Regions from separate parts of the Homo sapiens genome. Here regions 1, 2, 3, 5, 6 and 7 are each linked to region 4. The links come from fine-mapping of genetic effects on gene expression. A gene starts in region 4. Each other region holds a variant in brackets. All regions are shown on one strand. Distances are between the middles of the regions.

Region 1 (4,438 bases), 63 kb after region 4:
TAAGTTTCTCTCTCTTTTACTCTAGGATATGGAAATGGCTAGAAAGGTTTTCACCAAATGTGGAGGGTTCGTCTGAGACAAACTGACTTAAAATATAGACTGTGTGGCCTGCAGGTCATTCCCTTAAACTGGGCTTCATCCAGAGGCCTGTGAGACTTCCAAACAGGTGAGAGGGCTCCTATGTTTCCAAACGTCACAGAAGAGACAGCTTCGGACAGGAGGACCGAGGCGAATGCTCCCAGGGGCGGCCCTGTGTCAGGCACTGCAGGGCCAGGGCAGCAGGGTGTGGGCCTATGGAATGGCGGTAGTGACTCTCCCATGAGGCCCTGGGGAGGAGCTGGTGGCCTGCGAGAATGATGAGCCCCACTGAGATAGGGTGATGCAGGGTCTTGCTACACACTCAGGTCTAACTGTCTTGCCTGGCTCCTGGGGCATCTGGGCTCCTCTGGAGTACCCCTGATGGCGTAAGTGGCAACTTGAGGCATGCCAATGCTCCCTACTGGATCTGGACAGGGGACTACAGAGAGCAGCCTGGACTAGAGGAGGGCCAAGCCTGGGCTAGACTCGAGGTACCTGAACCCAAAAGGACACGGCCAAAGTGAACAATGTCAACTAAGATGAGTGTGACCAAGGTCTGACATCCTTGTAAGTCCCCTTCTCTTCCCTGATGTGTTGATGTGTGCTGCTGTGCTGATGACAGGACGCAAGGGCTTTGAGCAGCAAAGGGTCCTGCATAGACTGGGGCATGAATGGGTCAGGTGGGTCCTTTCTAAGCTTCTTACATTCCCAGAGCTCCGCCCCCACGTTTCCTGCCACATCCTAATACCACCTGTACTATCACCAATGTTTTTAAGCCAGCCTACTCCCTCTTGTTAAGTAAACATATCTTTTGGCCAGGCATGGTGGCTCATGCCTGTAATCCCAGCACTTTGGGAGGCCAAGGCAGGTGGATTACTTGAGGTCAGGAGTTTGAGAGATCAGCCTGGCCAACATGGAGAAACCCTGTCTTTTTTTTTTTTTTTTTTTTTTTTTTTTGAGAAGGAGTCTTGCTCTCTCTCCCACTCTGGAGTGCAGTGGCACAATCTAGGCTCACTGCAAGCTCCGCCTCCTGGGTTCACGCCATTCTCCCGCCTCAGCCTCCCGAGTAGCTGGGACTACAGGCACCCGCCACCACACCTGGCTAATTTTTTGTATTTTTAGTAGAGACGGGGTTTCACCATGTTAGCCAGGATGGTCTCGATCTCCTGACCTCGTGATCCACCCGCCTCGGCCTCCCAAAGTGCTGGGATTACAGGTGTGAGCCACCGCACCCGGCCAAGAAACCCTGTCTTTACTTAAAATACAAAAATTAGCTGGGCATGGTGGCATGTGCCTGTAATCCCAGCTACTCGGGAGGCTGAGGCAGGAGAATTGCTTGAACCCGGGAGATGGAGATTGCAGCAGGCTGAGATTGCACCACTGCACTCTAGCCTGGGCTGGAGTGAGACTCCATCTCGGAAAAAAAAAAAAAAAAGCAACGAATGCAGGAAGGAAGCCTGCATGCTGATGGCAGGTATGTGAGCCTAGGAGTTGTGTCAATACCAGCTGGGCGTCCCTTCCCTGTCCCTCTCTCCCCAGCCCACACTCCCAGTCCCAGTCCCTGGCCCAATCTTACCTCGAGGAAGTCATCCCCTTCGCTGGGCAAAACCTTGCCCTGCCGCCAGCGCTTGAGGAACCACCTGAGCTTCATGAAGAGCAGCAGGAAGTTGTGCTTGAATTGCTGGGACTCCTGCACCAGCATGTTCTTCTCCTGGCTCCAGAATTTCTGCTCCAGCCTCCGCTGGAGGCTCAGACTCTGCAGCTCAAACTCCCGCCTCAGGAGCGCCCTCTGCTGGTCCTCCTTCAGCTGCCGGGGGACAAGAGCTTGAGCAACCCCAGGGCCCTGTCCTCTCCCCCACCCCTTTCTGGGCCCCTGGACAGGGGCAGGGAGGAAAGTCTGGGTGGTGCCTGTGAGTGATCCCTGCCGGGGATCCCACCACACGTGGCGCAATCTATTCAGATGAGCACTGCCCTCTGCTCCTGCAAAAACAGTGACACATCATTGAAGGAGCTGGGATTTGACCCTGGCTCTAAAAAACCATGACATCATATACTGAGCACCTCCTGGGCACCAAATGTCTCACACGAATGCTCATGTTCAATGAGGAACCTGCGAGGGTGAGCGATGATAGCAGGGAGGGGTGACGCATGGAGAGCAAAGGGCGTGCCAGGGTTGAGGACAGCTGATGACTAGGCAACACCCTAGGAAGCAATGCAGTGTCATGCCTAACAGAGGGACCTGGATTAGAGGCCCAGCCCTGCCACACTCTGGATGTGCAACCCTGGGCAGAGCACTCCAGCTCTCTGGGCATCAGTTTCCCCATCTGCAAAATGGTGATAAGGGAGGGCACAAGGATTAAAAGACATAATGGGTAGAAAGTGC[A/G]TTGGACAGGCCCACCATACAGTAAGGGCTTAACAAATGTTATTCCAGAACTATTATCTTGATTAGAAGCCAGGCCTGATGAGGGCACCATTTCATAAATGGGAAACTGAGGTCCTGAGAGAAAACAGGACTGGCCCCAGGTCCCACAGGCCGCCAATGACAGCCCTGTTACACAACTAATGCACAATGGCAAGGACAATAACATCCCAGCAGGGCACAGGGGCTGAAGACTCAGGTTTCCCTTGACATTCTTTCATTCTTTTTTTTTTTTTTTTTTTTTAGATATCACTCTGTCACCCAGGCTAGAATACAGTGGGATGATCTCGGCTCACTGTAACCTCCGCCTCCTGGGTTCAAGCGGTTCTCTTGCCTCAGCCTCCTGAGTAGCTGGGATTACAGGCGTGCTAGTGCACGCCTGGCTAATTTTTGTATTTTTAGTAGAGGCGGGGTTTCCATGTTGGCCAGGCTGGTCTCAAACTCCTGGCCTCAAGTGATCTGCCTGCCTTGGCCTCCCAAAGTGCTGGGATTACAGGCGTGAGCCACCACACCCAGCCTCCCCTGACTTTCTTGACTTCAGAGGGCCCATAGATCCTCAAGGCCTCTGCTTCCAGCTCAGAGAGGCTGTAGGAATAGCTGCCTGGAAAGCGCTGGGCACCACGCACCTGGACCATTTTCTGGTTGAAATTGTCGGCCTCCTCCTTTCGTAGCTGCCGCTCCTGGGAGAGCTGCTCTTGCAAGCCCCGGAGGCTGTCGTGGGCCTCAGCCAGCACCAGCTGCAGCTCCTTGATCTGTGGTACAGACAGGGGACACAGATAATGAGGAGGGAGAGAGAGGAAGAAGTGGATAGAAATTGTGATCTAAGGATGACAGTGGTAGGGGAACGATGGGATGTTGGACCCAAGCTGTCCAAATACAAATCAGGCAGAATGACTGTCCCCACCTCTGAGGGTCGTCATGATGATTAAATGAAACAGTACATATCAAATCTGGCTTTTGTTACCATTGGAACTTGTTCTTTTCTCTCTGAAATTTATCTTAATAAGGTACTGGGAAAACTAAGTTTGATTCACAAAGATGTTCATTGTTTCATTGTTTATAATTGCAATATTTTAGAAACAACTTAGATACTAAATGATGGGACTTAAAAGATGCTTAATGGATCTATACATATGTAACAATCCATTCAGTGGTACCCTTAAGGACAGTGTCCTTTATTGTATGTATGTTATTATGTTATACTACAACAGAAAGTAGAAAAACAAAACCAAAAACGCTATAGGCCTCCATAAAAAAACATACAAAGGACATGGACACACACAATAAATGTAACCAGTGGGAACTATGTGAAGACCTTCTGACCTCCAACCTTCACCCACCCTCCCCTCCTTCTCTCTCTCCCTCTCTCTCTCTCTCTCTCTCTCTCTCTCTCTCTCTTTCAACGGAGTTTCGCCAGCTTTGAGCGTGATCTTGGCTCACTGCAACCTCTGCCTCCCAGGTTCAAGCGATTATCCTGCCTCAGCCTCTCAATTAACTGGGATTACAGGCACCCGCCACCACGCCTGGCTAATTTTTGTATATTTTTGATAGAGACAGGATTTTGCCATGTTGCCCAGGCTCATCTCGAACTCCTAGGCTTAAGCAATCTGCCCACCTGGGCCTCCCAAAGTGCTGAAATTACAGGTGTGAGTCACCGTGCCTGGCCCCAGAACTCCTACATAAAACCTTCCTAGGCATGGCAAATGTCCCTCTGTGAGAAAGTAAACATTCATTATATGGTCAATAATATGATGATTTGGCAGTGGAAGGCACAGTGACTTGAGGTATATCTTCTATATCTGTTTTGCATTAAAAATTTTTGCAGGGCTACATACTGTCTGCTGTCCCTGGTTTCCTCCCTGAACTCAGTGGTCAACAGCACTGGGCAATTGTCACTACTCAATAAAGAGTGGCTGAATGAAACAAATAATTGAATGTGTG
Region 2 (4,414 bases), 170 kb before region 4:
CTCCTGCCTCAGCCTCCCAAGTAGCTGGGATTACAGGTGTGTGCCACCACACCTAGCTAATTTTTTTTTTTTTTTGGTATTTTTAGTAGAGACGGGGTTTTGCCATGTTGGCCAGGCTGGTCTCGAACTCCTGACCTCAGGTGAGCCACCCACCTCGGCCTCCCAAAGTGCTGGGATTACGAGCGTGAGCCACCGTGTCCGGCCTTTGTTTGTTTTTGTTTTTTTTTTTTTGAGATGGAGTCTCGCTGTGTCACTAGGCTGGAGTGCGGTGGCACGATTTCGGCTCACTGCAACGTCCACCTCCCAGGTTCAAGCAATTCTGCCTCAGCCTCCCGAGTAGCTGGGACTACAGGCACGCGCCACCATGCCCAGCTAATTTTTGTATTTTTAGTAGAAACAGGGTTTCACCCTGTTGGCCAGGATGGTCTCAATCTCTTGACCTCGTGATCTGCCTGCCTCGGCCTCCCAAAGTGCTAGGATTACAGGCATGAGCCACTGTGCCCGGCCTTTGTTTTTTGAGACCTTTTTTATTTTGTTGTCACCCAGGCTGAAGTGCAGTGGCACAAACACAGTTCACTACAGCCTTGACCTCCTGGGCTCAAGCAATTCTGCCTCAGTCCCACAAGTAGGTGGGCTTACAAATGCACAGCATGACACCTGGCTTATTTTTGTATTTTGTGTGTGTGTGTGTGAGCCACTGCGCAGGCCTTGGGCAGCTTTCTTGATCTCTGTTACCTCATCTATAAAATGATGATAATAATAGCTTCTCCCTTATTGGGGAATTGTAATGATTAAATGAGATAACATGTAAAATGCTCAGTACAGGCCAGGCATGGTGGCTCACGCTTGCAATCCCAGCACTTTGGGAGGCTGAGGCTGCTAGATCTCTTGAGGCCAGCAGTTAAGACCAGCCTGGCCAATATGGTGAAACCCTGTGTCTACCAAAAAATACAGAAAGTCAGCCAGGCATGGTGGTGCATGCCTGTAATCCCAGCTACTCAGAGGCTGAGGTGGGAGAATCACTTGAACCCAGGAGACAGAAGTTGAAGTGAGCCAAGATGGCGCCACTGCACTCTAGCATGGGCTACAGAGTGAGAGCCTCTCTCAAAAAAAAAAAAAAAAGAAAAGAAAAAACCAAATGCTTAGTACCGAACATGGAAAACAGTAGACCTCAGTAGAAGCTGTAATTGTTTCCAGCCTGAGTCCTGCTTGTGAATGAGCTGCCATTCGGTAGTCACCTACCTGTTCCATGAAGTGGAGGAACTTTGGACTCATCCCTTCTAGCTTGCTCGGTCTGTGTTACGGCCTGAGATTCTGAATTGCAACTACCCCATTTCTGGTGTCCCAGGCTCAAGTAATGCTGAGCATGTTTGGAGACTAGGAAAAGGCGGTACGTGCTAATGATGTTCCCATCCCCTGTGTCCCTTGTCCCAGGTTTACCCAAGGTCCAGCCTAGCCCCTAGGCACCATGTCGGACAGTGATCTAGGTGAGGACGAAGGCCTCCTCTCCCTGGCGGGCAAAAGGAAGCGCAGGGGGAACCTGCCCAAGGAGTCGGTGAAGATCCTCCGGGACTGGCTGTACTTGCACCGCTACAACGCCTACCCCTCAGAGCAGGAGAAGCTGAGCCTTTCTGGACAGACCAACCTGTCAGTGCTGCAAGTAAGGAGGGGATCTGGATAAGGGGGTGGCAGGAGGACCTGGGTTCTAGTCCTATTCCAGCTGTGTCACTGAGTCACTGTGGTCTTGGGCCACTCACTTTCACTGTCTGGGCTTCGGTTTCTTCTTGGGTTAGGGGAGAACACCCACTCTCCCTGTCTCAAGGGAAGACAATGAAATAGGGTCGCTGCAGTCAATTTCAGACTTTAGATAGTCCTTTTTTTTTGAGACGGAGTCTTGCACTGTCACCCGGGCTGGAGTGCAGTGATGCGATCTCGGCTCACTGCAACCTCCGCCTCCCGGGTTCGAGTGATTCTCCTCCCTCAGCCTCCCGACTAGCTGGGATTACAGGCGCCCGCCACCACGCCCAGCTAATTTTTTGTATTTTTAGTAGAGACAGGGTTTCA[C/T]CATGTTGGCCAGGCTGGTCTCGAACTCCTGACCTTGTGATTCACCCGCCTCAGCCTCCCAAAGTGCTGGGATTACAGGCGTGAGCCACCACGCCTGGCCCAGACTTTGGATAGTTCTGAAGAGGCAAGGAATTTAATGTTGTCAAAGTCTAGGTGTCATCCTTAACTTTGGAGGCCAAGGGAAGATGAGAAGGCATCGAGCATCTAGGATTCAGCCCCCAGCCCCAACGCAGTATTGGACGGCGACTTGGTTGAAAGGGGCAGCTGTAATTTGCAGTGTGGTTAAGAGATGGGGCAGGATCACAGTCCAGGAAAGGGCAGAAGTCAGAGGTTCTGTGTTCATAATCCAGTTCTGCCTCACGTCTTGATTTCCTTATCTGTAAAGGGGCAGGGGGTACACAGAGTCTTCCCCTGCCTGGTGGATCTGTTGTGACGAATAGATTCAGAACTGGATGTGAAAGTGCTTTGCAAACCATGCACATGAACACACTCAAAAGATAGCCTTATCCCCTTTTTGTCAGAGTGCAAAGTACTGTCCCCTTTGAATCGCGCCTATTGCTGACCCGCAGGTGTCTTTGTTCTGCTTTCCTGGAGCAGAGGCGGGGGACCCTGAACCACCATTGCTTTGCCTCCAGTTTGCCTCTCCCCTTCCTGGAGACACACAGTAGGCCCTTAGCCTAATACAAGAGGCCCAGCCCTGCCCTGCTGGCCCCCACTGCTCCCTTCCTGAGCCAGTCAAACCTCTCCCACAAGCTCTCCTGTTTCTCTTTCCCCCTCTGTCCTTTCATAGCTTATTACTCCAACCTTTGATGCTGTCTCTCCCTCCTTCCCTTATCCCACTCTGAACCTCCCACGTCTTCCTAGCTCCTATCTTTCTTCCATGTAGAGACATGGTAAGTATTTTAGCCCTCAGAACTCCTGTCACCTGACTTTATACTCTGGGCAATGGTTAATCCAAGTCTCTGTATGAGAAAGGCTCTAAAGTTACAGATCCTGACTCAGATTCCATCTTCTCCACAAGAGGAAACCTGGACCTTGGCCAGGTCACTGCCTTCTCTGTGAGCCTCATTATTCCCTCATCTGAAAAAAGGGAGGTGATTGTAGCACTTTCATGAGTGTAGGGAGAAAGGGACGAGAAGAAGAATTCAAGGCTCACTGGGGCCCTTCACAGTGGCTCACACCTGTAATCCCAGCACTTTAGGAGACCAAGGTAGGAGGATCGCATGCGCCCAGGAGTTTGAGACCAGCCTGGGCAACATAGGGAGACCCCATCTGTACAAAACAAAAAAATTAGCTGGGCATGGTGGTACATACCTGTAGTCTCAGCTACTTGGGGGGCTGAAGTGGGAGGAAGGATTACTTGAGCCCTGGAGGTGGAGGCTGCAGTGAGCTGTGATCGCACCACTGCACTCCAGACTGGGCGAAGGAGTGAGACATTGTCTCAAAAAAAAAAAAAAAAAAAAAAAAAACAAGGCCAGGCACGGTGGCTCACACTTGTAATCCCAGCACTTTGGGAGGCCAAGGCGGGTGGATCACCTGAGGTCGGGAGTTCAAGACCAGCCTGGCCAACATGGAGAAACCCCATCTCTACTAAAAATACAAAAAAAATTGCCAGGTGTGGTGGTGCATGCCTGTAATCCAAGCTACTCGGGAGGCTGAGGCAGGAGAATTGCTTGAACCTGGGAGGCGGAGGTTGCGGTGAGCCGAGATGGTGGCATTGCACTCCAGCCTGGGCAACAAGAACAAGACTCGGTCTCAAAAAAAACACCTACTGGTCAGTGTTTGGCATACAGTGGGTGTTTCTACTGTTTTCAGCTTCATCTCTGCCTAAGGCACAAAGTCTTTGGCTGATCCTGGGTGCCCAGCAGTGCGTGGCATCTCACAGTGTACCTCCTCAGCATGGAGCTGTGCAGAGTTGGGATCTGAGAGAGGCTCCAGACACATTCTTACCCTCGAGGAGTGTCTGGACAGCCTCTTTGCGGGTCTCCCTGCCTTCAGCCTTCAGCCTTCAGCCTTGTTCATTTAATCCATTATTTTGAACACAAAAGCCCAAATCTGATAGGGCCAGGCACTCCTGGACTCTACTGCCCTCAGGATAGAGTCCAAACTGATCTACAGCCTAGGTTTGGGGCTGCTGCTTATATTCCCAGTGCACCTCACCCTGTCCTGTCAAACCACTTGTCACACTCTATTGGAATTACTTTTTGTCAGGGACACTTTCTCAAACCTGAGAAATATACTAACTCCTTTTATTTATTTATCTGTGTGTGTGTGTGTGATGGAGTCTTGCTCTGTCACCCAGGCTGGAAGTGCAGTGGTGCGATGTCAGCTCACTGCAACCTCTGCCTCC
Region 3 (4,438 bases), 56 kb before region 4:
TGTCTATGGCTGGGGCCAGAATCTTACACTACCATCTAGAAAAGTCCACTTAAAGTCACTGGTGACAGGCTCTAGCAAGAATTCTTACTAATTCATTGAAGAGCTCACAACAAAGTTAAGTTCCAACTCTGAATTTTCTAACCTGAAACATATTTAAAAAAAAAAAACAGAGTACAGGCTTGAAAACATGGATTTCAGTTCTACTTTCTTAGCAGTGCATTGTATAATCTGCAATCCTTTAGCAGACATGAAGGCGAGATGTGATTCCAGTATCCCCAGAATACATTCCCCTGCACACTTCCCAGGAACTTTATACCATTAACGAATGTAGGAACAAGGAGGGAAAGTTACCACAGAGAGGGGGAAACCTCTGCTCTATTAGAATATTGTTGTTGTTTGGTTTTTAACATACAAAGATCAAGTATGATAAGAAGGGAAGGTGTAAAATAAAATACATACGGTTGAGGCCAATGTCATGATATGTTAGTATAACTGGTCTGTTTCCTTTGGGTAAGCCTCTTATAGTGACGTGGACCACACCATGAGTTGTTTCTATATCATGTTCCTGTAACAAGAGAATGTAAGTTCTCAGAAAAAGCAGAATGAACTTCCCAGGTTGCCAAAGTTTCACAATACCTGCTTTACCACCGTTTCCCACGAGCTGGGGCAGGACACATTAATAAATTACATGTGGCTGGGCGTGGTGGTTCACGCCTGTAATCCCAGCACTTTGGGAGGCCTAGGTGGTCGGATCACTTGAGGTCAGGACTTTGAGGATCAGCCTGGCCAACATGATGAAACCCTGTCTTTACTAAAAATAAAAAATCAGCCAGGCATGGTGGCACACGCACATAATCCCAGCTACTCAGGAGGCTAAGGCTGGAGAATCACTTGAACCTGGGAGGCAGAGATTACAGTGAGCTGAGATCGTGCTACTGCATTCTAGCCTGGTGACAGAGCAAGACTTCGTCTCAAAAAATAAAATAAAATAAAATAAATGCATACCAGAGAGATGCTAGAGTATACATAATATTCCTACTTTCCAATTCTTCCAGAAAAATAAATAGGGAGCAAAACACACCTTGTTATCTCCAAAGCTCACTTACGAGCCCAGGGATCTGTTGAGAATACATTTGCAATTGGCTATGGAAAGGAAATCAGCAAATTGGGTAAGGAGCCAGGTAAGACTTGTGGGGAAAAAAGGAAATGGAAGATATGAAGAAGTTGCTGGGTAAAAAATCAGAGGTTTTGGAGCTTCTGAACACATGTTCAGATAATTTATAATTAATTTCAGTAGATAATTTCACCAGACACCTATGGGTGTATCTGCCTAGGATCCCTTCTTTCCTGGGAGCTGTCCTTCTGTGTCATCCACACGTTACAGGGGTGGATCTTGGCTACCATGTTTGTGGAACATAAACTTACGGCCATAGCTTACTGGAGTCAGGGAGGCATCTGGCCCAGGCTGGGTCAGCACCTTTCCCTTGGAACTAAGAGATTTTTTTTTTTTTTTTTTTTTGAGACAGAGTCTCGCTCCGTCACCCAGGCTGGAGTGCAGTGGCGCGATCTCGGCTCACTGCAAGCTCCGCCTCCTGGGTTCACGCCATTCTCCTGGCTCAGCCTCCCAAGTAGCTGGGACTACAGGCACCTGCCACCACGCCCAGCTAATTTTTTGTATTTTTAGTAGAGACGGGGTTTCACTGTGTTAGCCAGGATGGTCTCGATCTCCTGACCTCATGATCCACCCACCTCCGCCTCCCAAAGTGCTGAGATTACAGACGTGAGCCACCGCGCCCAGCCTGTAATTGGAACTAAGAGATTCTAACTTCAGCTTGGCTCTCCTCTTGAAAAGAGGAATCAACTTGGGAGATTTTAGTAGGCATTTCCACTACTCTAATTTCTGGTGCTAGCTGTGTATACTTCTAAGTTCTAAGACATCCCTGGACTGCCTCTGGTTTAAGCTATATTGGGTGAGTTTGTACCCTCTACTCCTAAAAGATCTTAACCAAGCCAATCAGTTAAAGATGTAGCCAGAGCAAAGCTCAGGAACCAAATAGAGCAGACAAAAGATGCACCGAGCAAAGCTCAGGAACCAAATAGAGCAGACAAAAGATGCACCGAGCAAAGCTCAGGAACCCAATAGAGCAGACAAAAGATGCACCGAGCAAAGCTCAGGAACCGAATAGAGCAGACAAAAGATGCACCGAGCAAAGCTGAGGAACCCAATAGAGCAGACAAAAGATGCACCGAGCAAAGCTCAGGAACCCAATAGAGCAGACAAAAGATGCACCGAGCAAAGCTCAGGAACCCAATAGAGCAGACAAAAGATGCACCGAGCAAAGCTCAGGAACCCAACAGAGCAGACAAAAGATGCACCGAGCAAAGCTCAGGAACCCAATAGAGCAGACAAAAGATGCACCGAGCAAAGCTCAGGAACCGAATAGAGCAGACAAAAGATGCACCGAGCAAAGCTCAGGAACCGAATAGAGCAGACAAAAGATGCACCGAGCAAAGCTCAGGAACCGAATAGAGCAGACAAAAGATGCACCGAGCAAAGCTCAGGAACCGAATAGAGCAGACAAAAGATGCACCGAGCAAAGCTCAGGAACCGAATAGAGCAGACAAAAGATGCACCGAGCAAAGCTCAGGAACTGAATAAAGCAGACAAAAGATGCACC[G/A]AGCTGCTGAGAGTAGATGCCGCACTAAGAGTGGTTGGGTGGAAAAAAAAGGGACTACTGAAAAGTTAACTGAGATTTATTCTAGTCGTGCTCAAGTTTTATATTTCTCAAAAATAAAAAAATTACCATTCCTATCCTAGCGAATTTCTGTTGATGAAGCCTGTATCTATCTTACAAAGTCTTACATTAGGTAAGACAAGATTAACTCTGTCAATGAGAATCCCAAAAAAGGCAAAGGGCTTCCAGTTTAATTTCCTATCTAATAATGAACCTCATAAGAGCTTTGGTTTCTTCTCTGATGTGGGCACCAGAAGACAATCTTAAGCTAATTGGACATCAGTATATCTCAAATTACAGGCCCTAGGCTGGAGCCGATAGCCATCCCTACCAAATCAAACCATGTGTGACTCAATATTTCTGTTATTTTCTATTACTACTACCTCCTAGTCAAGTCTATTCAAAGCCTTCAAAAATGAACATAAGAAATGAAGACTAGAATCAGGTACTGTGAAACTGGCTATGAAATAAAGTATAGGCCAGGCGCGGTGGCTCATGCCTGTAATCCCAGCACTTTGGGAGGCCGAGGCAGGCAGATCATCTGAGGTCAGGAGTTCAAGACTAGCCTGTCTAGCACAGTGAAACTCTGTCTCTACAAAAATATAAAAATTAGCCAGGCATGATGGCAGGTGCCTGTAATCCCAGCTACTTAGGAGGGTGAGGCAGAAGAATTGCTTGAACCCGGGAGGCAGAGGTTACAGTGAGCCGAAATTGTGACACCACTGCACTCCAGCCTGGGTGACAGAGTGAGACTCTGTCTCAAAAAAATATAACAAATAAAGCATAAGGTTTGGATAGGAGGAATATAAAGAAATAACTTCCTATTTCTGTATTTCTCTTACAGTAATGTCAGACTTATTAAAGGACTCACTTCCCGACCCTGGTTCATTCATTAAACATCTATTTATTGAATGCCACTCCATGCCAGACCCTGGTCTGAGTTGTGGGGATAAAACAGTAAACCTGAGAAATGTGATCCCAGTCTTCACAGAGATTATGTTCTACATAGGGAGGCACACAATAAACACAGAAACAAATCCACCTGTAATAATAGCTTGTGATAGGTGCTATAAAAGAAACAACTAGGGTGCTACGATAGAAAAGTAAGAAGACATTACCTTCACTAAACAGACAGGAAAATGGAAATTAAATTCAATAAAATACTATTTCATACATACCAAAATGGCAAAAATGTAAAGTCAGATAATGCTAAGTGGTGACCAGGATGCAGAGAAATAACTAAGAACCAACATATACTGTTTTTTACGTTTTGTTTTGTTTTTGAGACGGAGTCTTACTCTATCGCCCGCCCAGGCTGGAGTGCAGTGGCACGATCTCAGCTCACTGCAACCTTCACTTCCCAGGTTCAAGCAATTCTCCTGCCTCAGTCTCCCAAGTAGCTGGGACTACAGGTGTGCACCACCAAGCCCCACTAATTTTTGTATTTTTAGTAGAGATGGGGTTTCACCATGTTGTCCGGGCTGGTCTCGAACTCCTGACCTCAAGTGATCCACCTGCCTCGGCCTCCCAAAGTGCTGGGATTACAGGCGTGAGCCACCGTGCCCCACAAGAATCAACATATACTGTTGGTAAGGCATATAAACTGGAACAACTACCAGGAGAATACTTTGGTAATTTCTAGTAAAGTTAAGAGGTGTCTACCCTACAGAAATTTTACCCTACAGCAATTTTACATATAGATA
Region 4 (4,438 bases):
CATCTCCCGAACTCGTGATCCACCCACCTCGGCCTCCCAAAGTGCTGGGATTACAGGCGTGAGCCGCAGCGCCCGGTCCATAAACAGGCTTTTTGATGCAAGACTCTTATCTGCAAGTTTTCAAAAACAACAGGGTGGATGGAGGCCTTTGAGTGGTAAATGGTGATGACAAGTTTAATCTGAAGGAAGAGACAAGCAAAGAGAAACTGAAGGGCAGGAAGGAGGAACAGAAGGGCACCAGAAGAACACCACGCTTTGAGTAATGAAAAGGGGGGGTGGAAATTAACTGAGTCCTTACCAAGGATCTACTGTGAGCCAGGCATCTGGAGCTGCAAAGATGGACCATGCCCTCAAGGGGCTAGAAGTCCGCAGGGTAAGACTGAGGCTAAGACCCTGTTTTGTGAACGTGTAATTCTAATTGGGAAAATCAAGCAGGGAAGGCTTCACAGAGAAGGTGGTGATTTAGTGGAGCCTTTGAAATGTGGAGGAGGATTTGCTAAGGGAGAAAAACGACAGTTTGAGCTAGTTATTTTGGGGGAGAAACATTCACATATTTTTATAGCTGTTCATTTGGAACTTTAAATCATGGGAGGCTTCTTAAATTCAGCACCACTCTATCAATGTTCTCTTTCTCTTCTTGCTTTATCTTAAATACTGAAATGTTCAAGCCCAACCTTGGGGCAAAGGCAGAAAGCCTCGGACAGAAAGCCCCGGAATGAGGTGAGTGCTAGCCAAATCTGCTCTGTCACCTCCAAGTCCAGCCCGCCCAGCTAGCCCAGTCAGCCCAGTCCTGCTCTCTTGGCAGGAAAGGAAGGCTAATAATATCCCCTGAGGGCCAGGGTAAGGGGGGGGGGGGGCGCGGCGGGGGTGATCTGGATGCCAGCAGGCAAGGATCACTCTTGTTCTGTCAGTAAGCCACCAAAGGAAAGCTTCCCTGCTTCCTAATCCACGGGGCTCCTAGTCTACCTGTGATAGGGAGGCCAGCTCTGCAGGAAGAAAAAAAGGGCTTCATGACAAGGAAGGGGGAAGCATTTGGATTGGGAAGTGCAGAGGTGGTTATGCGAGGTTATCTTAATAAAATGCTTAGCAAGATCCCTGGCACACAGCGAGCGGTGGAAGAACGTTAGCTCTTATATTAATAACACTATTATTATTACAGTAACACCTCAATTGTACTCCGACAACAAGAAAATCTTTTTTGTGCAGCCTACTTTTACGACGTTCGAGAGCAACTTCAGAGATGACAAGTGATTTCAAAATTTTTTCAAAGGTACGAGATCAAATTCCAACCGCACTGGCCTGAGAGCCCGAGACCCTGAGTTGAGAGCTGACCCTGCCACTTGTCAGCTGCGTGACCTTGGGCATGGCACTTCACCTTTCCGTGCCTCAGTTTCCTCGGCTGTTAAGTGGGGCTAAGAAGCCTCTCCCCGGTAGGGTAGTCGTAGGGTCCCGTTAGAGGATGCCCTCTGCTGCTCTGGGGCCGGACGGGTGCAAGGGCTGCTCACGGCCCCTCTTCCAAGCATCTGGGCTCTTGGAGCGGGCGAGGTAGATGGATGAGCAACCCCAAGGCCCACCAAGCTCTGCCGCCTGCAGAGCCAGAGCGAGAGAAGGGTTCGCGCCTGCGGGGGGCGTCCCTGTGACCCAGGGTGTTGAGCCCGGAGGGAGGCTCTCTTGCTACCCACACGCTGTCGCCGGCGGGCTGGGCGCGGGGAGCGGCCGAGGAAAGCCGGGCTGACCTGGGTCCGGCGGGCGGGCGGGGCGGGGCAGAGGGCCCCGGGGGCACGGGGGAGGCAAGCAGCACGGGCCACCAGGGCCTCGCCGTGCCGCGGAGATGATGCGGGGAAGGAGCAGGGCAAAGGAGCGACGCCCCCGAATGCGGCGCCGCGCGCCCCCCGCGGGCCGGGCGGAGGCGCTCACTCACCTGAGGCGCGGGCACCCGCCGTCAGTGCAGCAGCAGCGGCGGCGGCGGCGGCGGCGGCGGCGGCGGCGGCGGCGGCGAGAGGGGCGGGGGAGGTGCTGCGGTCCGCGCAGGCGCGCCGAGGACGCCAGGGCGGCGCATGAGTGCTGTGCCCGTCCACCTCGGGAACTACCGAGAAGATGGTGGCTGAGCCAGGAGAGGCCGGCGGCGCCATCTTTGATGTAGTTTTTCTTGCTGCGGAGTTTCCTCAGAGAAGAATCTCAGATTTTGGAGGCGCTGGGCGGCAGGGCCATTGAGCTCTGCGTCTGGAGCGCTTCCCTCAGTTCCCTGAGTCGCATCCTTATGAAGCCCCTAAGAGCTCTTGCAGGGTATGGCATCCTCCTTTTAAGGTGACCTAGAGCCATACCCAAGGTCACAGGGCGCCTAGCACAGTGCTCGGCACGTGGAAAGAGCTTAGTAAATTTTTGGTGAATGAACATAGTAATTTAAGAACTAGAGTCCAAGACTCAGGGCTCCGAATTACCAGTCCTCCATTGTATCACCCCTATTACAACCGTCAGCCAAATCATCTACTTTCTTGAATGCAACATTAGAGATGGAATTTTTTTTCCCAGAATGATTGCAGATATTAAACTTAATGACCCAACAATTTAACACCAAAATGTACAGGACACACTCTTCCTCTATTTATTATCTATTATTTCTTTACCATTAAGTACCACTGACTAAAAGTTTTTTTGTTTTGTTTTGTTTTGTTTTTTGAGACGGAGTCTCACTCTGTCGCCAGGCTGGAGTGCACTAGCGCGATCTCGGCTCACTGCAACCTCTGCCTCCTGGGTTCAAGCGATTCTCCTGCCTCAGCCTCCCGAGTAGCTGGCACTGTAGGCGTGTGCCACCGGGCCTGGCTAATTTTTCTATTATTAGTAGAGACGGGTTTTCACCGTGTTGGCCAGGATGGTCTCGATCTCTTGACCTCGTCATCTGCCCGCCTCGGCCTCCCAAAGTGCTGGGATTACAGGTGTGTGAGCCACCACGCCCTTTTAACCCGAGCCAGTGTCGCCATCTCGGCTCAGGTTCCCAAGTCCCTCAGCCTCCCAAGTAGCTGGGACTAGAGGCGGGCGCCACCATGCCTGGGTAATTTTTGTATTTTTTTTTTTTTAGTAGAGATGGGGTTTCACCATGTTGGCCAAGCTGGTCTCAAACTCCTGACCTCAAGCAATCCGCCTGCTTCTGCGTCCCAAAGTGCTGGGATTACAGGTGTGAGCCACCACGCCCGGCCACTAAAAGCATATTCTTTTAATTAAGGCAAACTGAACAAATGAATATTACCAAACATCTCAGAGGGCAGCAATAATATTGTTATTCATCAAGCACAATTCTTGAACTGAATTTAGTTGGAAGGAAAACTAACATTAATTGAGCACAGCCATTTATTTTATGGTTTATGTTCGTTAACATTTACTGAATTCAAATTAGTTCTAGTTCACCATCCACTATTTATCCCTATGTCCTTGGTTAGACAATTAAGTCTCTCCACACCTCTCCATGCCCGAATTCCTCATCTATGTCACACACCCAGAAATAGAAGTTACAAGGTTGTGGCAAAGACTGAATGATAATATGCATGTAAAATGCTTAGAGCTCAGTAAGTATTATTTTTCTTTGTTCTATCGTATTTTACTGTTGAAGACACAAAACATACTTCTTGAGTTTGAAGAAATCCTTATAAGCAAAAAATGCAATACAATGTAATAAATAAAAAGGGGGAGGGTATAATCATCTTTAGAGAGATAATCTGTCCCCATTTTACAGATGAGGAAATTGAGGATAAAATGAAAATTCATGGCCGGGCGCAGTGGCTCACGCCTGTAATCCCAGAACTTTGGGAGGCTGAGGCGGGCAGATCATGAGGTCAGGAAATCGAGACCATCCTGGCTAACAAGGTGAAACCCCGTCTCTACTAAAAATACAAAAATTAGCTGGGCGTAGTGGCGGGTGCCTGTAATCCCAGCTACTCGGGAGGCTGAGGCAGGAGAATGGTGTGAACCCGGGAGGCAGAGCTTGCAGTGAGCCGAGATTGCGCTGCTGCACTCCAGCTTGGGCAACAGAGCGAGACTCCGTCTCAAAAAAAAAAAAGAAAAAGGAAAATTCACTCCAACTCTCTCCATTGTACTACTTTGTTTATGAAAGAGTAGGCAATTAAGAGCATTTCTCTGATTCTTGAGATACAGATAGAGATAGATATAGACGAGGGTCTCACCATGTTGCTCAGGCTGGTCTAGAACTCTTGGACTCAAGCAATCCTCCTGCCTAGGCCTCCCAAAGTTCTGGGATTATAGGCATGAGCCACTGTGTCCCGCTCTGCTCTGATTCTTAAATGTTGGATTTCCATGAGACCATCCAAACTTTCCCTTCTTGCTCTACTGTGGACTATATCATTCATTCTCAAGTCATCAAGAACTAGACATCAGCAACTCTCAAATGTTATTTCCAGTCTCGATTTCTCCACCCAGTTCTCCA
Region 5 (4,438 bases), 340 kb before region 4:
TATCCTCGACTGGATCCTGAAACAGAAAAAGGACGTTAATGGAAATGGTGAAATCCAAATAAAGTCTGGAGTTTAGTTAATAGTAATGTACCAATGTTAATTTCAACAAATGTACCATTGTTATGTAAAATGTTAACATTAGAGGAAACCAGGTGAGGGTTATACAAGAAGTCTCTATACTATCTGCAACCTAGAATAATCTAAAACTATTGCCAAATAAAAGGCTTTTTTTTTTTTTTTTTTTGAGACAGAGTCTCGCTCTGTCACCCAGGCTGGAGTGTGGTGGCGCCATCTTGGCTCACTGCAACCTCCACCTCCCGGGTTCAAGCGATTCTCATGCCTCAGTCTTCCAAATAGCTGGGATTACAGGCATGTGCAGCCATGCCCAGCTAATTTTTTTGTATTCTTAGTAGAGGCGGAGTTTTGCCATGTTGGTCAGGCTGGCCTCGAACTCTTGGTCTTCAACTCCTGGCCTCAGCCTCCCAAAGTGCTGGGATGACAGCTGTGAGCCACCGTGCACAACCTAAAAGACTTATTTTTTTCATGTATCCCAGAACTTAAAGTAAAATAAAAAAAATTTTTTTAAGACTTTTTTTTTTTAACTCTTTTTTTTTTTTTTTTAACTCTAAAGAAACATAGGCTGTGTGCAGTGTCTCATACCTGTAATCCTATGGGAGGCTGAGGCGGGCAGATCACCCAAGGTCAGGAGTTTGAGACCAGCCTGGCAAAACCCCATCTCTACAAAAAATACAAAAATTAGCCAGGCATGGTGGCATGCACCTGTAGTCCCAGCTACTAGGGAGGCTGAGGCAGGAGAATCACTTGAACCCAGGAGACAGAGGTTGCAGTGAGCCAAGATCACACCACTGCACTCCAGCCTGGGCAACAGAGCAAGACTGTCTCAAAAAAAAAAAAAGAAACATAATAAAAAGCCCTCCTCCTGGCCGGGCGCAGTGGCTCAAGCCTGTAATCCCAGCACTTTGGGAGGCCAAGGTGGGCGGATCACGAGGTCAGGAGATCGAGACCATCCTGGCTAACACGGTGAAACCCCGTCTCTACTAAAAATACAAAAAAATTAGCCGGGTATGGTGGCGGGCGCCTATAGTCCCAGCTACTCGGGAGGCTGAGGCAGGAGAATGGCATGAACCCGGGAGGCGGAGCTTGCAGTGAGCCGAGATCACGCCACTGCACTCCAGCCTGGGCGACAGAGTTAGACTCCGTCTCAAAAAAAAAAAAAAAAAAGTACTCCTCCTACTCTTTCTTCCATCCACCTTGTTCCTGTTCCTAGTTTATTGGGTACCCTTCCACTGATAGGCAAATACGAATAAAATTCTTGGACCCCTCTTTTAGAGGATTGGTAGCTGCATACTGTAGCAGATGCTGTCAGTGCCCTGCCTCTACCACCTCAAGCTCAGTTTGGTTTATGCCAGCCACTTCCTTCTGGAAAAACCTGCATTTCTCCAGCTGAGGGCTTTCTTTCAGCCTGCACTGGGAGGGTGGAAGTGCTGGGGTGTTCATTTCCCCAGGGGCAGCCCTCAGCCATTGCAGAAGGAAGTGGAGAATACGGACCCCAACTCCCTCGCCCTTCCATGGGATAACTCTGAGATATGTGTTCTACCTGAAGTGTAGATGTGATAATCCAATTTTGCATCACTATAAAGAAATATCTGAGGCTGAGTAATGTATAAAGAAAAGAGCTTTAATTGGCTTACAGTTCTGCAAGCTATACAAGCATAGCTCCAGCATCTGCTTCTGATGAGGGCCTCAGGAAGCTTCCAATCATGGCTGAAGGTGAAGGGAAAGCAGGCAGTGTCATATGGCAAGAGAGGGAGTGTGGGGGATAGGGGAGGTGCCACACCCTTTTAAACAACCTGGTGAACTACCAGAGTGAGAATTCACTCATCACTATGGGAATGGTGCTAAGCCAT[T/G]CTTGAGGGACGTGCCCCCATGATCCAAACACCTCCCACCAAACCCCACCTCCAACACAGGGGATCCCATTCCAACATGAGATTTGCAGGGGACAAACATCCAAACCATATCAGCAGAGTTCCCAGCGGGGTTAAGCCTGGGTGCCACAGCGAGGTTGTGCAGCCTTCATTGGCTCTCCTTGTGTCCCCATCCCCACACTGTACTTCCTGGGATCACCTCCCAAATAGATTCAAATTCTTTTTTGTTTTGTTTTGTTTTGTTTTGTTTTTTGAGACAGAGTCTTGTTCTGTTGCCCAGGCTGGAATGCAGTGGGATGATCTCAGCTCACTGCAACCTCCGCCTCCTGGGTTCAAGCAATTCTCCTGCCTCATCCTCCAAGTAGCTGGGACTACAGGCATGCGCCATCGCACCCAGCTAATTTTTGTATTTTTAGTAGAAATGGGGTTTCACTATGTTGGCCAGGCTGGTCTCAAACTCGTGACCTCAGGTGATCCGCCCACCTCAGCCTCCCAAAGTGCAGGATTATAGACGTGGGCCACCGCGCCTGGCCTTCAATTCAAATTCTTGTCTGAGGGTCTGCTTCTCGGAGAACCCAAATCAGACAGATGCCCTGACCCCGTTCTGCCCCTTGCTGTGTTCACTTTACAGTACCTTTGGAGAGCTTTCCACATCAGTACACTCAGTGCCACCTTATTCTTTTTGACAGCTGCATAGCAGTCCATGGGGTGCTGGGTGATCTTTTACCCGGTCTCCTCATGGACAGCCTTTTGGGATGTTTTCAGCCCTTTGCTAATACAAATATTATGTCAGGAAAGGCCCCACACACCCATCATTTCCCACGTGCATAAGGCAAGGCCGCTGGTAATTCCTAGAAGCGGAATTGCTGGCACCCATGGCCTTTGGGGTCTCCTCTATTTTGATGGCTGATGGCCTACAGTTTAAATCCAGAGTTCCTAGAGGGGCAGGGGGCATCAAGCCCTCCAGGATCTGAGCCCAGGCATTCGCTTCCCTGTCTCCCTCAAAGCCCATGCCCACCACATGGACAATCTGCTGTCCCCCAGCACTCCCTGAATCCCTCGCCTTTGGCCATGATTTTGTCTCTACTTATCCCTTTTTATGAAACGCTCTTCCCTGTACCTTTGTCTGTGGAAATCTTACTTGTCCTCAGAGATCTGGCTGAAATACCGTCTCCTCTGGGGACCCTTCCTGGTGCCCCTGTGAGTATTAATCTCTGTCTTCACTGGGCTGCACATCCTGGCTTCGACACTCCAGGATTTATTTTTATGTGTTCTCCAAGTGCTGTGTGTATTTCTGCCTCCCTCCACTTGTCCACAAGCTCTTTAAGGGCTGAGGCCATCTGAGTCACAGAGCAGGCTCCATAAATGTTGGAAGAATTGAATTAAATGTGCTGGCAATTGCTGCATTCTGACCATTTTGTTCTGCTGTTTGCCAGCATGACCTTCCAGGATGGTTCCCCAGTGGGGGCCGGAATGAAACAGGGCGAGGCAGGTGGCCTCCAGAATCCGCCTGCCCTGCAGTCAGAGCTCTGAGGCTAGAGGGCAGGGCAGCATGGACAGCCTTTGCACAGTCCTCCCCTAAGAGGCATCTCCCAGCCTGTCAGACGAAGGTTTTGGTGAGCCCACAGTTAGAGGCTGTGTCCCCTGAGCATGGCCCAGGCTCAGGGTTCTGTGAGGTGGTGGCCAACTGGACATTGTCTCCTGAGAGCTGAGAAGCAGCACAGGAAGCTCATTAGTGGCATGGGCTCTGGAGCCAAATTGCCTGGGTTCAAATCCCAGCTCTGACACCTGTGTGACCTTGTACAAATCATTTCTCTCTATGCCTCTGTTCTCTTTCTATAGAACGGGACCAACAATGAGACCTCCTTCATAGGGCTGATTGGAGGATTCAAAAAGATCATCCAAACAAAGTGCTTACGTGTATGTAGGAAGCATCTGATCAGTAAGCTCTGAAAAGGTCTTGATTCACAAGACTTTTGGGAGTTCATGTAACAACCGCAGCACCTCTTTATTGAGCACCTACTAGAGACCTTATGGGGTGCTCTCTGTGTACACTCATACTGGAGCTTACAGATACATCCTCCAGGTGAAACGCCTTTTAAAACTGAGGTAGAATACATATAAAATTGGCCATTTAAACCATTTTAGAGTTACAATTCAGTGGCATGAAGTATATTCACAGTGTTGTACAGCCATCACCACTGTTTATTCCAGAACTCTTTTCTTTTTTTTTTTTTTTTTTGGAACAGAGTCTCACTCTGTCACCCAGGCTGGAGTACAGTGTTGCGATCTTGGCTCACTGCAACCTCCGCCTCCTGGGTTTAAGCGATTCTTGTGCCTCAGCCTTCTGAGTAGCTGGGGTTACAGGCGTGTGCCACCACACCTGGCTATTTTTTGTATTTTTAGTAGAGACAGTTTCACCATGTTGGCCAGGATGGTCTCGAACTCCCCACCTCAGATGATCCACCCACCTCGGGCTCCCAAAGTGTTGG
Region 6 (4,438 bases), 210 kb before region 4:
AGACTCCGTCTCAAAAACAAACAAACAAACAAAAAAAAAAAAACAAACAAAAAAAACCATGAAAGCTAAAACTAGCAAACTCTTACAAGAAAACAGAAGTGGGCCGGGCACGGTGGCTCATGCCTGTAATCCCAGCACTTTGGGAGGCCAAGGTGGGTGGATCATGAGGTCAGGAGATCGAGACCATCCTGGCTAACACGGTGAAACCCCGTCTCTATTAAAAATACAAAAAATTAGCCGGACGTGGTGGTGGGCACCTGTAGTCCCAGCTACTGGGAAGGCTGAGGCAGGACAATGGCGTGAACCTGGGAGGCGGAGCTTGCAGTGAGCCCAGATCACACCACTGCACTCCAGCCTGGGCGACAGAGCGAGACTCCATCTCAAAAAAAAAAAAAAAAAAAAGAAAAGAAAAGAAAACACAAGTGTAAACATTCATAACCTTGGATCAGGCAATGACTTCTTGGGTATGACACCAAAGCACAAGCAACCAAAGAAAACACAGATAAACTAAACTTAAAAGTTAAAAACACTTGTGCTTCGGCCGGGCGCGGTGGCTCATGCCTGTAATCCCAGCACTTTGGGAGGCCGAGGCCAGTGGATCATGAGGTCAGGAGTTCAAGACCAGCCTGACCAAGATAGTGAAACCTTGTCTCTACTAAAAATACAAAAATTAGCCAGGTGTGGTGGTGGGTGCCTGTAATCCCAGCTACTCGGGAGGCTGACGCAGGAGAATCACTTGAACCCAGGGGTCAGAGATTGCAGTGAGCCGAGATCGCACCACTGCACTTCTAGCCTGAGCGACAAAGCAAAACTCCATCTCAAAAAACAAAAAAAAAATAAAAAATAAAAAATAAACTTGTGTTTCAAAGAACACATGTTTATCAAGAAAGTGAAAGGATAACTCACATAATAAGAGAAAATATTTGCAACTCATTTATCTGATAAGGGTGCAATAGCCGGAATATGTAAAGAACTTCTACAGCTCAAAACCAAAAGACAAATTTTTAAATAGGTAAAAGGATCTAAATAGACACTTTTTTTTTTTTTTCTTTTTTTTTTTTTGAGACAGAGTCTCACTCTCTGTTGCCCAGGCTGGAGTGCAGGGGCATGACCTCAGCTCACTGCAAACTCCACCTTCCGAGTTCAAGTGATTCTTGTGCTTCAGCCTCCCGAGTAGCTGAGACTACAGGCACCCACCACCACCCCCAGCTAATTTTTGTATTTTTAGTAGAGACGGAGTTTCGCCATTTTTGCCAGGCTGGTCTCAAACTCCTGACCTCGGGTGATCTGCCTGCCTTGGCCTCCCAAAGTGCTGGGATTACAGGCGTGAGCCACCACCGCGGCCAGCCTAAATAGATAATTCTCTGAAGAAGATACACAAATGTCCAATAATAAGCATGTGAAAAATGCTCAACATCTTCAGTCACTAGATAAATGCAAATCAAAACCACAATGAGATGCCACTTCACACCTAATAGCATGACTAGAATTAAAAAGACAAGCAGGGCCAGGTAGCTGTAGTCCCAGCTACTCGGGAGGCTGAGGTGGAAGGACTGCTAAGCCCAGGAGTTCAAGTCCAGCCTGGGGTAACATAGTGAGACCCTGGCTCTAATACAAACACAGACAGACAAGTATTAGTGAAGAAGTAGAGAAACTGGAACCATCCACTGCCGGTGGGAATTCAAAATGGGACAACATTGTGCAAAATTGTTTGGAAGTTCCTTAAAAGGTTAAACATAGAGGCGTTACCATATGACCCAGCGGTTCCACTCTTATATACCTGAGAAAGTGAAAACGTATATCCACA[C/A]GTAAACCTGCAGATTAATGTTCACGGCACCATATTCATAATGGACAAAAAGTAGAAACAACCCAAATGTCTATCAGCTGACAAATGCAAAAACAAAATGTAGCATATAGCCATACAACAGAATACTACTTGGCAATGAAAAAGACTGAGGTCCCGGGACATTCTGCAATATGGATGATCCCTGAAAATATTATGCTAAGCGAAAGAAGCCAGACATTGTATGACTGCATTTGTTTGAAGTTTCTAGAGTAAACAAGCTGGCTAGGCGTGTGGCTCACACCTGTAATCCCAGCACTCTGGGAGGCTGAGGCAGGTGAATCACTTGAGGTCAGGATTTCGAGACCGGCCTAGACAACATGGTAAAACCCCATCTCTACTAAAAATACAAAAATTAGCTGGGGTGGTAGCAGGTGCCTGTAATCCCAGCTACTAGGGAGGCTGAGGCAGGATAATCACTTGAATTCAAGAGGCAGAGGTTGCAGTGAGCCCCACTGCACTCCCGTCTGGGTGACAGGGTGAAACTCCATCTCAAAACACAAAAACAAATTTCTACAGTAAACAAACTGATAGAGAGGGAAAGTAGATCCATAGTCTCCAGGGGCTGGGATGAGAGGAGAATGGGAAATGACTGCTGACAGGTACAGGGTTTCTTTGGGGGATTACTTACTAAAATGTTATGGAATTACATAGTAGTGCCGATAATTACATAGCTTTGTAGATACACTAAAACCAATGAATTGTACATTTCATAGGTGAATTTTATGGTTTATAAAAGATAACAATTTAAGCTTTTCTTTAAAATACAGAAAACCTGTAGAATAAGAAAAATATTTACAAATCATATCAAGGGATTAATATCCAAAACATATTTTTAAAACGCCTAGAATCAAAAAAAAAACAACCCTGCTCTTTTAAATGGGCCAAGAATTTTTTTTTTTTTTTTTTGAGACCGAGTCTCACTCTGTCCACCAGGCTGGAGTGCAGCGGCGCGATCTCGGCTCACTGTAACCTCAGCCTCCCGGATTCAAGTGAGTCTCCTGCCTCAGCCTCCCGAGTAGTTGGGATTACAGGCGTGTACAACCACACCTGGCTAATTTTTGTATTTTTCGTAGAGAACAAGATTTCACCATGCTGGCCAGGCTTGTCTCAAATTCCTGGCATCAAGTGATCCACCTGTCTAGGCCTCCCAAAGTGCTAGGATTACAGGCAAGAGCAACCACACCAGGCCCCTTGTACACTGTTGATGGGAATTTAAAATGGTACAGCCACTACAGAAAACAGTTATTGCAGTTCCTCGGAATGTTAAAAATAGAATAACCATTTGATCCAGCAATTCCATTTCTGGGCACATACCCAAAAGAATTGAAAACAGAGACTTATATGTTCACAATGTCAGGTTAAAAAAACAATAGCAGGAACTTGAAGAGACCCATGTTCACTGAAGCATTATTCAGAATAGCCAAAAAGTGGAAGCAACCCAAGTGTCCATCCATGATGAGTAGATAAACAAACTATGCAAACAATGGAATATTATTCAGCCTTAAAAAGGACGAGAGCCTGGGCAACATGGCAAAATCCCACTTCTACAAAAAGAATTTTTTAAAAAATTAGCCGGGGCCAAGCACAGTGGCTCAGGCCTATAATCCCAGCACTTTGGGAGGTCCAGGCAGGACGACTGCTTGAGGCTAGAAGTTTGAGACCAGGCTGGGCAACACAGGGAGACCCTGTTTCTACAAAAGTAGAAAACTTAGCCAGGTGTGGGCCGGGCGCAGTGGCTCACATCTGTAATCCCAGCACTTTGGGAGGCTGAGGCGGGCAGATAATGAGGTCAGGAGATCGAGACCATCCTGACTAACACGGTGAAACCCCGTCTCTACTAAACATACAAAAAAAAAAAATTAGCCGGGCATGGTGGCGGGCGCCTGTAGTCCCAGCTACTCGGAAGGCTGAGGCAGGAGAATGGCATGAACCCGGGAGGCAGAGCTTGCAGTGAGCCGAGATCGCGCCACTGGACTCCAGCCTGGGTGACAGAGCGAGACTCCGTTTCAAAAAAAAAAAAGAAAACTTAGCCGGGTGTGCTGGTGCATGCTTGCAGCCCTAGCTACTTGAGGGGGTCAAAGCAGGGGGATTGCTTGAGCCCAGGAGGTCAAGGCTGCAGTGAGCTATAATTGTGCCACTGCATGCCACCCACGGCGACAGAGTGAGACCCTATCTCAACCCCCCACCCCCAAAAAGAAATTCTGATATACACTAAACATGGATGAACCTGGGGCTTGAGGACATTATGCTGGGTGAAATAAGCCAGTGACAAAAGGTCGAATGCTATATGATTCCACTTACATGAGGCCCCAATAAGTAGATAAACTCACAGAAAACAGAAAGATGAATGATGACTGCCAGGGGCGGGGAGAAGGGGGCAAGGTGGAGTTAGTGTTTAACTGGCAGGGAGTTTCGGCTGAGGAAGATGAAAGTGCTCTGGAGATGGATGGTGGTGATGGTTGCAAAACAAAGTGAATATACTTAATGCCACCAAACTATACACTTAAAAATGCTGAAAATGGCATGAACCTGGGAGGCGGAGCTTGCAGTCAGCTGAGATGGCGCCACTGCACTCCAGCCTGGGCGACAGAG
Region 7 (4,438 bases), 28 kb before region 4:
GCGGTGGCTCATGCCTGTAATCCCAGCACTTTGGGAGGCCGAGGCGGACGGATCACTTGAAGTCAGGAGTTCAAGACCAGCCTGGCCAACATGGCAAAACCCCATCTCTACTAAAAATACAAAAACTAGCTGAACATGGTGGCAGGTACCTATAATCCCAGCTACTTGGGAGGCTGAGGCAGAAGAATCACTTGAACCTGGGAGGCAGAGGTTGCAGTGAGCCGAGATCATGCCACTGCACTCCAGCCTGGGCAACAGAGCGAGACTCCATCTCAAAAAAAAAAAAAAAAAGATTTACCTCACTTTCTACTGTAACAACCAAAACAAAGTATATAACTTTTTTCTGTTCTCTCTACTAAACATTTATTCCCCTTTCTGCTATTTCCTCAATTCTTCAGAAGCCAAGTGTGGCCTTCTACTTGTTTTCTCAAGCCTCACCTTTGGCTTTCACAGGGTTCAGTAGTATCTGAACCTAGTAGGTAGAGGAAGGCAGGGAAAATGAGGCAAAACAGTCTACTCTCCTGTTTATTACAAGGTCTTTTGGGTGAGGAGCCTGGAACAACCAGGTACAAGAGGCAGTAGATGGTGGGAAGAACCCTAGACCCCCAGGTCCAGGTCAAAGTCAAAAGATGTAGGTTCTAGCCTGGCTTCACCAACTTAACAGACACTAGCTCTGAACAAATCAGATAACCTCTCAGTGTCATCTGTAAAATAGAGTTAAAATATCTTCAACTATTTACAAGAGACTGGAAGATTAAAATAAGATATTATTGGTGAAAGTGCTCTGAAAATAGTTAAATGCTATTTTAAAAATCATTTCATATGCCCATGCAATTTCTGTCCCGCAAAACAAAGTACTGGTGGTTGCTTCTTTTCATCACTAGAGCCAAAACAAGTATGACAAAATTATCCACTTCTTGACAATTCTGAGCCGTAGACAAAATTACAGGCATACTAAAATAAAATGGGAAAAGTACCAACAAATGACAAGAGACAACATAAGCCTTGCTCAAAGCTATATTGAGAATGCCTCCTTACAAGTCATCTCAGGACAAATTTCACGGTAAAAGGTTGGTTCTAGTCTTCCTTTAGCTTCCTGAAGCCTGGAGGATGCAGCAATGTCTTCAGTATATTTATGAGAATAATGGACAGAAGGATAAGGTGAAATACTACACATTTTTAGGCTTCTCCTTAAAGAGACAGGGTAAGCCACAAAGGTGATGCCAAAACATCTATAGGATTAACACAGTGGAAACAGCTCAGGTTTTAAGAGTAGGAAAGACTTTGGTTTCTGTCTGGCTTTGCCACTTCTTTACTGGGCAAACCAGCCTTTCATTCGGATTTTTAATCTGTGAAGTAGGAATAATACTATCTATCTCAAAGGGATATTCTGAGAGAGAGAATGTATGTAAAGCACTTGGCACATAAGAGATAATAAATCATAGCAGGACAGGCAAAAACAACAACAACAAAACCCTCAAGCCATCTACTTCTATGCAAATCTGAAGGCTTTTCCTCTATACCAGTGGTTCTTAACCAAGGAAATTTTGCCTCCCAGGGACATCTGGCAATGTCTGGAGACATTTTTGGTTGTCACCACTGGGGAGTGCTATTAGCATCTAGTGGGTAGAGGCCAAAGATGCTGCTAAACATTCTACAATGCACAGAGCAGTGTTCCACAACAAACAATTATCCAACCCAAAACATCGACAGTGAGAAATCCTGCCATACAGCAGGCATTCTTTGATACTCAATAGGAGTAAGCTACTTCACCTTTCCTAGCCTTCGTTTACTCACTGGCAATGTGGGAATACATTTATCTGTGCTCCTTCCTCATCAAGCTATTGGGAGGTTCAAATGAAGTAATGGATGAGAGGCATTATTATCATTATACCTTTTACTATATACACAAAACCATCCACTTGCTGCGCAAAGACAGAAGCATTCACATACTGGGGAGGGGGAGAGGGAGGCTAACGGGGTGGAAGTCTTTGTTTGGAGGTGCCATGATCTAAAGAGGGCCTCTTGCCTATCTACCTGCTTGGCGAGAGCCAAGAGAGTTCTCATGAATAGTGATGGCACAGGAGCACTTACGTCTCAGGGAGAGAAAGGAGTAAGGTGGAATGTGGGAAGTGGGTAGGAACAGCATAGGCCTATCAAAGAGGAGCAGATAGATGTTAGGAAGTGAGACACTGCTTTGTGTCTTAGTCTACTCGGGCTGTCATAACAAAATAACATAGACTTGATGGCTTAAAACAACAGAAATTTATTTTCTCACAGTTCTGAAGGCTGCAAAGTTCAAGATTAAGGTTCTAGAAGGGTTCAGTTTCTCATGATTAATCTCTTCCTGGTTTGTGGACAGCTGCCTTCTTGCTGTGTCCCCATATGGCAGGGGAAGGGAGAGAGAAAGAGAGCCTCTTTCTCTATTTATTTATTTTCTGAGACAGGGTCTCACTCTGTTGCCCAGGCTGGAGTGCAGTGGCACAATCACAGCTCACTGCAGCCTCAACCTCCCAGGCTCAAGTGATCCTCGCAGCTCAGCCTCCCAAGTAGCTGGGACTACAGGCATCTGCCACCACACCTGGATCATTTTTTTAATTTTTTGGTAGACAGGATCTCCCTTTGTTGCCCAGGCTGGTCTTGAACTTCTGGCTTCAGGTGATCCTCCAGCATCAGCCTCCCAAAGTGCTTGGATTATAGGTGT[G/T]AGCCAGGTTATAGGTGTGTGCCTGGCTCAGATTTTATTTCCTTCCTCCTCTCCTAGGCACAACATTTTTGGCACAGCCCTTCACATACACACATACACAAATGGTACTTAAAGGAGAGAGTTTTCTGGAAATATGAGGGGATGCAGCAGGAGAAACCAAATGGAGGTTAAAAAAGCGTGCAGTGGCCGGGCGTGGAAGTTCACGCCTGTAATCCCAGCACTTTTGGAGGCCGAGGCGGGTGGATCAAGAGGTCAAGAGATCGAGACCATCCTGGCCAACATGGTGAAACCCCATCTCTAGTCAAAATACAAAAATTAGCTGGGCATGGTGTTGCACACCTGTAGTCCCAGCTACTTGGGAGGCTGAAGCAGGAGAATCGCTTGAACCCGGGAGGCAGAGGTTGCAGTGAGCCAAGATCACGCCACTGCACTCGAGCCTGGTGACAGAGCAAGACTCCGTTTCAAAAAAAAAAAAAAAAAAAGCCTGCAGCTTGCCAAGGGAGAGAGAAGTCTGGTGAAAGATAAAAGAAGGGGTGGGAGTGGGAATGGAGAGGTCACAGGGATGAAAATAGGGGTGGCAGGATTCAAAAGCAAATTAGTAAGCACAAAATAAGTCAGCAGCTCCAGAGGCTGCAGGTGAAGGGCCTTGCCTTGGGCAGATAAAAAGTAATAAGCAACAGATCATCCCCTGGTGTCACCCGCACACCCCCCCTCCCCGCCCCTCCGCCCATCCATCTTTATCCTCACACTCCGTCAACACTCCCTCAGGAAAGGATGGCATGGCCTCACTCACACAAAGCTACAAGAGTATTTCAAGAGGGGACAATGACAATACACCAAAAGAATAGAGTGGAAAAGAAGGAATTTCAAGCAGCTGGGCATGGTGGCTCATGCCTGTAATCCCAGCACTTTAGGAGGCCAAGGCAGGTAGATCACAAGGTCAGGAGTTCGAGACCAGCCTGACCAACATGGTGAAACCCTGTCTCTACTAAAAATACAAAAATTAGCCAGGTGCACGCCTGTAATCCCAGCCACTCCGGAGGCTGAGGCAGAAGAATCACTTGAAACCGGGAGGCGGAGCTTGCAGTGAGCCGAGATTGTACCACTGCACTCCAGCCTGGGTGACAGAGTGAGACTCCGTCTCAAAAAAAAAAAAAGAAGGAATTTCAGGCACATTTACCGAACAATAAGGAACAAGAGAGAAAACAAAACTTCTTTTCTTTTTTTTGAGCCAGAGTTTTGCTCTGTCGCCCAGGCTGGAGTGCAGTGGCATGATCTCGGCTCACTGCATCCTCTGCCTTCCGGGTTCAAGTGATTCTCCTGCCTCAGCCTCCTGAGTAGCTGGGACTACAGGCCTGCACCACCACGCCCAGCTAATTTTTGTATTTTTAGTAGAGATGGAATTTCACCATGTTGGCGAGGCTGATCTCAAACTCCTGACCTCAAGTGATCCGTCAGCCTTGGCCTCCCAAAGTGCTGGGATTACAGGCATAAGCCACTGCACCTGGCCAAAACCTTTCTTTTGGTAAATCATATCACACCAGTGTCTAGTGGTCATCAACTGTGGTCTCATCTGCTCCTTGTGTAGTTCTCTGACACTAACATAAAAATGTGGTATATTACTGACATCCAGTCCTCCCTGATGTCATATTGACAGAAAGACCACATCATAGACTTGGCAAACTTCAGGGAGAACACTGCAGCCTACGCACATCACCAGCCATGGATGGTAAA

Direction of the effects. Positions count from the first base shown, and alleles are read on the strand shown. Sizes are in standard deviations (SD) of each study's normalised expression. Not every link is listed here.
For the expression in platelets of the gene that starts at base 1,967 in region 4, A is the high allele of the variant in region 3 and G is the other (large effect, 1.2 SD a copy in CEDAR).
In carriers of allele A in region 6, the expression in lymphoblastoid cells of the gene that starts at base 1,967 in region 4 tends to be lower than with C alone (large effect, 1.4 SD a copy in GEUVADIS).

Evidence for each region. PIP is the estimated chance that this variant, and not a neighbour inherited with it, causes the effect. A credible set is the group of variants that fine-mapping cannot tell apart.
Region 1: its variant is the best candidate, but not a certain one, in a credible set for the expression of NDRG3 in whole blood (TOPMed, PIP 0.62).
Region 2: its variant is the best candidate, but not a certain one, in a credible set for the expression of NDRG3 in whole blood (TOPMed, PIP 0.65).
Region 3: its variant is the best candidate, but not a certain one, in a credible set for the expression of NDRG3 in platelets (CEDAR, PIP 0.88).
Region 5: its variant is the best candidate, but not a certain one, in a credible set for the expression of NDRG3 in whole blood (TOPMed, PIP 0.88).
Region 6: its variant is the best candidate, but not a certain one, in a credible set for the expression of NDRG3 in lymphoblastoid cells (GEUVADIS, PIP 0.81).
Region 7: its variant is the best candidate, but not a certain one, in a credible set for the expression of NDRG3 in prostate (GTEx, PIP 0.64).

What each region holds. Positions count from the first base shown.
Region 1 is chr20:36,806,859-36,811,296 of GRCh38, forward strand. MTCL2 (microtubule crosslinking factor 2) reads right to left here. Exons shown (of 15, transcript NM_080627.4): 7 at 3,124-3,249; 8 at 1,655-1,885. Among named protein-coding and RNA genes, the nearest start is that of DSN1, 35 kb to the left of the region's middle. The variant A/G (reference allele first, on the strand shown) is at 2,462.
Region 2 is chr20:36,577,307-36,581,720 of GRCh38, forward strand. TGIF2 (TGFB induced factor homeobox 2) reads left to right here. Exons shown (of 3, transcript NM_021809.7): 2 at 1,435-1,660. The coding sequence starts at 1,469. It overlaps TGIF2-RAB5IF (TGIF2-RAB5IF readthrough), which reads left to right. Exons shown (of 5, transcript NM_001199535.2): 2 at 1,435-1,660. The coding sequence starts at 1,469. Among named protein-coding and RNA genes, the nearest start is that of TGIF2-RAB5IF, 5.0 kb to the left of the region's middle. The variant C/T (reference allele first, on the strand shown) is at 2,065.
Region 3 is chr20:36,688,220-36,692,657 of GRCh38, forward strand. It overlaps NDRG3 (NDRG family member 3), which reads right to left. Exons shown (of 16, transcript NM_032013.4): 4 at 460-565. Among named protein-coding and RNA genes, the nearest start is that of SLA2, 44 kb to the left of the region's middle. The variant G/A (reference allele first, on the strand shown) is at 2,679.
Region 4 is chr20:36,744,124-36,748,561 of GRCh38, forward strand. NDRG3 (NDRG family member 3) reads right to left here and starts at 1,967. Exons shown (of 16, transcript NM_032013.4): 1 at 1,922-1,967. RefSeq lists enhancers at 1,430-2,396, 2,121-2,220 and silencers at 1,591-1,780, 1,811-2,010.
Region 5 is chr20:36,408,810-36,413,247 of GRCh38, forward strand. All of the region lies in intron 2 of DLGAP4 (DLG associated protein 4), which reads left to right. Among named protein-coding and RNA genes, the nearest start is that of DLGAP4, 100 kb to the left of the region's middle. The variant T/G (reference allele first, on the strand shown) is at 1,929.
Region 6 is chr20:36,535,376-36,539,813 of GRCh38, forward strand. The region is part of intron 2 of DLGAP4-AS1 (DLGAP4 antisense RNA 1); the gene reads right to left. Among named protein-coding and RNA genes, the nearest start is that of MYL9, 3.9 kb to the right of the region's middle. The variant C/A (reference allele first, on the strand shown) is at 1,808.
Region 7 is chr20:36,716,259-36,720,696 of GRCh38, forward strand. The region is part of intron 2 of NDRG3 (NDRG family member 3); the gene reads right to left. Among named protein-coding and RNA genes, the nearest start is that of NDRG3, 28 kb to the right of the region's middle. The variant G/T (reference allele first, on the strand shown) is at 2,705.